2 separate regions of the Homo sapiens genome follow, and region 2 is linked to region 1. Evidence: fine-mapped expression QTL. Tissue or cell type: whole blood. Region 1 holds a variant in brackets; the other region holds the start of a gene. All regions are shown on one strand. Distances are from middle to middle.

Region 1 (2,684 bases):
GAACTTTTTAGATTATAATATAGTTAACAGAGTGCTAAATTACTGGAGATTGAAGAATAAGAGTGGAAAAAGAGCATTTGGTAATTTCTTTTTTTTTTTTTTTTTTTTTTGAGACAGAGTCTTGCTCTGTCACCCAGGCTGGAGTGCAGTGGTGCGATCTCGGCTCACTGCAAGCTCCGCCTCCCGGGTTCACGGCATTCTCCTGCCTCAGCCTCCCGAGTAGCTGGGACTATGGGCACCCGCCACCACACCCAGCTAATTTTTGTATTTTCAGTAGAGACGGGGTTTCGCCATGGTCTCGATCTCCTGACCTCATGATCCACACGCCTCGGCCTCCCAAACTGCTGGGATTACAGGCATGAGCCACAGCGCCCGGCCTAGCATTTGGTAATATCTTGATGTTGCTAGTTTTGTTTTAGGAATGTGTTTCCCTCATGAATTCCAGGAGCACAGGTGGTTGGAAGGGCTCTCTTGACAGTGATTTTATAGCTCACCATCAGATCACAGCATAAGACTGAAGGCTTGACTCATCTTTCTTCTCTTGTCCTTAGTTTGTCCATTTGTAAAAGGAGAGAGATTTTGCTGGAGGATATTTGAGGACTCTTTTATCTCTAACATCCCATGAATTGCAAACATTATTAACTACTGTTACCTTTCATGACAGCAGGTAGTTGAATCCAAATTGCATTCTCTTTTCTAGTTAATGTGTTTCAGCCTTCTGCGATTTTGTATTAGACAAGAAATATATGGGACCCTCTTTTTCCTGACATGAGGGAATACAGCTGGTAATTTGCATCTCTCTTGGGGACCTAGATATACTTTCACATCATCTGCTTTCTTCTGAAGACTTGAGGTGTCTGAACAGGATAGTACTAAAGTCACTGTTAAGTCAAGACCAGGCCGAGAAAAACTTCCTTTGTATCTGCAAAATAAAACACACAATGTTTTAATACTAAAGATTTTTAAGCCCACTCTATTGACTAGGAATGGCTTTCTTATTACTACATAGTATATTTTATTTTCTTTCTTTTTTTTTTTTTTTGAGACGAATTCTCATCCTTTCACCCAGGCTGTTGTACGTGGTGTGATCGCAGCTCACTGCAACCTCTGCCTCCCAGGTTCAAGCGATTCTCCTGCCCCAGCCTCCCAAGTAGCTGGGATTACAGGCGTGTGCCACCATGCCTGACTAATTTTTGTATTTTTTGGTAGAAATGGGGTTTCACCATGTTGAACAGGCTGGTCTCGAACTTCTGACCTCAAGTGACCC[A/G]CCTGCCTCGGCCTCCCAAAGTGCTGGGATTACAGGTGTGAGCCACTGCGCCTGGCTCATAGTATGTATTTTGAAGTATAGAATTGCTGAGAGACCTTTAAACTCATCTCAGCATTTTGCGCGGATGTCTCCAGGACTCTTGCCATTCTGAGCTGAGCACTCCTTGCCCAATTTTTACTCCCCTATCTTCTCCAGCATCTACTCTCCCTCTGACACAGCCCCATACACTACAGGCTTCTACATGGCCATCTTTAATTCAATTCAGCAAATATTCATGGATGCATATGACCTGCCCAGCTCTGCGGTGGGTGTTAGGGATATAATCTTCAATATAATTAGGGACCTACCACATGAATTAACCACAAAGCACTCCTCTGGGTTATGTAAACAAATTGACCTACTGCGTAGGTTCGCTTAACATTGAACACTTAAAAATTAGAAAACCAGTGCCTCAGATTATTTTCTTTTTTTTTTTTTCCACAGTTAATGAAAATTTCCTCACCTTGCTGACATTGGAAACTTTGTCGTGTAATGCTTTGTCTGATTCATGACAATAGAACAATTTTGTCATTATCTACAAGGAAGGACACTTCTATTTAGAATGTTAAGAGAAAACATAGATATTTCTTTCCTTTCATCCAAAAGTGAAAACCAAACTATAAACATATACATTAAAGGAATTGGTGCAGATATGGTTTGAATATATGTCCCCACCAAGTCCCAAGTTGAATTGTAATCCCCAGTGCTGGAAGTTGGGCCTGGTTGGAGGTAGGGCCTGGTGGGTCAGGAGGGTCAATCCCTCATGGTGCTATCCTCCTGATAGTGAGTGAGTTCTCACGAGATCTGATTGTTTATGTGTGTGGCACCACCCCCATCTTGTTCCTGCTCTCACCATGTGAAGTGCCGGCTCCGACTTCACCTTCTGCCATGAGTAAGAGCTTCCTGAGGCCTCCCCAGAAGCAGATGCCAGCACTGTTTCCTGTACAGCCTGCAGAACTGTGAGCCAATTAAACCTCTTTTCTTATAAGTTACCCAGTCTCAGGTATTTCTTTCTAGCAATGCAAGAACGGCCTAATACTGGTGCTAACATACGACATTCATAAACACAAATAAAATAATGTGGTCTGTCAAGAGGCCATTCTGCCCACCCTAGTTCTGTAGATGGGTAATTAGGAGATAGATTTGGCAGAAACATTATTCATCAGAAATCCATGTCAAGTTCATATGCTCTTGGCCTAGCTGGCTCCTGCTCACCAAATCAAAATCTGAATAAAAGTTGGAAAAAAGTTTTAATTTGCCTGGATATATTTCTTCATGAGATAAAAGAAGATATAGCTAAATATTCAATAGCAGAATAATTATATCTGAAATCACCTTGCTTTTCCTGAAATGTATTAAAGCTGCATTTTACAAGAAA
Region 2 (2,684 bases), 70 kb after region 1:
CATAATTTATTTACTTATTTTTCTTTCTTTTTGAGACAGGGTCTTATTCTGTCTCCCAGCTGGGCTGGAGTGCAGTGGGGTGATCACTGCAGCCTCAACTTTCAGGGCTCAGGTGATTTTCCCTCCAAGACTCCTAGGCTCAAGTGATTTTCCCTCCCAGTCTCCTGAGTAGCTGGGTCTACAGGTGTGCACCATACCCCGCTAATTTTTGTATTTTATTTATTTATTTATTTTTTGAGACAGAGTCTTGCTCTGTTGCCCAGGCTAGAATGCAGTGGCGCGATCTCGGCTCACTGCAAGCTCCGCCTCCCGGGTTCACGCCATTCTCTTGCCTCAGCCTCCAGAGTAGCTGGGTCTACAGGCGCCCGCCACGATGCCCGGCTAATTTTTTTAATTGTTGGTAGAGACGGGGTTTCACCGTGTTAGCCGGGATGGTCTCAATCTCTTGACCTCGTGATCCGCCTGCCTGCGCCTCCCAAAGTGCTGGGATTACAGGCGTGAGCCACTGCGCCCGGCCTAATCTTTGTATTTTTTTAGAGACAAAGTTTCACCATGCCGCCCAGGCTGGTCTCTAACTGTATTTTAAAAATACAGGCGGCCGGGCGCAGTGGCTCACGCTTGTAATCCCGGAACTTTAGGAGGCTGAGGCGGGCCGATCATGAGGTCAGCAGATCGAGACCATCTGGCTAACACGGTGAAACCCTGTCTCTACTAAAAATACAAAAAAAATTAGCCAGGCGTGGTGGCGGGCGCCTGTAGTCCCAGCCACTTGGGAGGCTGAGGCAGGAGAATGGCGTGAACGTGGGAGGCAGAGCTTGCAGTGAACCGAGATCGCGCCACTGTACTCCAGCCTGGCCGACAGAGCGAGACTCCGTCTTAAAATAAAAAATAAAAAAATAAGAAATACAGGCAGGGCGCGTGGGCTCATGCTTGTAATCCCAGCACTTTGGGAGGCTGAGGCGGACAGGCTGCTTGAGCTCAAGAGTTCCAGACTAGCATCGGCAAAGCAGGGAGACCCCATCTTTACAAAAAAAGTAGCCTGGCATGGTGTTGTGAGCCCATAGTCCCAGCTAAGTAGGGCAGAGGTAGGAGAATCACTTGAGCCCAGGAGTTCCAGGCTGCAGTGAGCCGTGGTCGTGCCACTGGACTCCAGCCTGGGTGAAAGAGCAAGACCCTGTCTCAAAAAGAGAAAGGAAAAAATTTAACATCAAGAACTTCCTTTCATCAAGACACCACTGAGAGAATACGACAACCCACAGAGTAGGAAAAGAGATTTGTAATACACATCTGTAACAATGGACTTCCTCCTAGAATAGAGAGGATAAAAAGTAGCAACACTTCCGCTTGCACCCGGACGGAACTTCCTGTCACGGAAAAGAACATCCTGTCACGGAGAAGAACATCCTGCAGAATTTCCTGTCACGAGGAACATTCCGCAGGAGGAAATGGAGGCTGAAAGGCTGCGACTCCTCGAGGAAGAGGCCAAGCTGAAAAAGGTAGCCAGAATGGGATTTAATGCATCTTCCATGCTCCGAAAAAGCCAGCTAGGTTTCCTCAACGTCACCAGTTACTCCCGTTTAGCCAACGAGCTGCGTGTGAGCTGCATGGAGCGGAAAAAGGTCCAAATTCGGAGCTTGGATCCCTCCTCTTTGGCGAGCGACCGATTTAACTTCATTCTGGCGAGTACCAACAGCGACCAGCTCTTCGTAGTGAACCAGGTCGAAGTCGAAGGCTCCAAGTACGGCATCATCAGCCTGCGAACTCTGAAGATCCCTTCGTTCCACGTGTACGTGCTCAGAAACCTCTACGTCCCCAACCGGAAGGTGAAGTCCCTGTGCTGGGCCTCGCTGAACCAGTTGGACTCTCACGTTCTGCTGTGCTTCGAGGGAATCACAGATGCTCCAAGCTGTGCAGTGCTGCTCCCAGCGTCGCGGTTCTTAAGTGTTCACACAAGAGTTAACCAGCCTGGCATGCTCTGCAGTTTCCAGATCCCAGAGGCCTGGTCCTGTGCGTGGTCCCTCAACACCCGGGCATATCACTGCTTTAGTGCAGGCTTGTCTCAGCAGGTCCTGTTGACCAGCGTGGCGACGGGACACCAGCAGTCATTTGATACCAGCAGTGATGTCTTGGCCCAGCAGTTTGCTAGTACGGCTCCTTTGCTGTTTAATGGCTGTCGCTCCGGGGAGATCTTTGCCATTGATCTGCGTTGTAGAAATCGAGGCAAGGGGTGGAGGGCCACTCGCCTGTTCCATGACTCAGCAGTGACCTCTGTGCAAATCCTCCAAGAAGAGCAATGCCTGATGGCATCAGACATGACTGGAAAGATCAAGCTGTGGGATCTGAGGGCCACTAAATGTGTAAGGCAGTACGAAGGTCACGTGAATGAGTCCGCCTATCTGCCCCTGCATGTGCACGAGGAAGAGGGAATCGTGGTGGCAGTGGGCCAGGACTGCTACACGAGAATCTGGAGCCTCCATGATGCCCACCTGCTCAGAACCATCCCTTCCCCGTACTCTGCCTCCGAGGACGACATTCCCAGCGTGGCCTTCGCTTCTCGGCTCGGGGGCATCCGGGGAGCAGCACCAGGGCTGCTCATGGCTGTCCGGCAGGACCTTTATTGTTTCCCCTTCAGCTAATTCTGCAGGTGGCAGCGCGGCCGAATGTGGATTTGACTTAAGGAAGTT

The links. PIP is the estimated chance that this variant, and not a neighbour inherited with it, causes the effect.
Region 2: it holds the start of DCAF4L1, and the variant in region 1 is fine-mapped to the expression of DCAF4L1 in whole blood (INTERVAL, PIP above 0.99).

Annotation. Positions count from the first base shown.
Region 1 is chr4:41,910,577-41,913,260 of GRCh38, forward strand. It overlaps LOC105374426 (a long non-coding RNA gene), which reads right to left. Exons shown (of 3, transcript NR_188374.1): 3 at 1-922. Among named protein-coding and RNA genes, the nearest start is that of TMEM33, 24 kb to the right of the region's middle. RefSeq lists an enhancer at 2,309-2,684. The variant A/G (reference allele first, on the strand shown) is at 1,268.
Region 2 is chr4:41,980,348-41,983,031 of GRCh38, forward strand. It overlaps DCAF4L1 (DDB1 and CUL4 associated factor 4 like 1), which reads left to right and starts at 1,409. Exons shown (of 1, transcript NM_001029955.4): 1 at 1,409-2,684. The coding sequence starts at 1,446. The coding sequence ends at 2,636. RefSeq lists enhancers at 1,140-2,339, 1,899-2,671.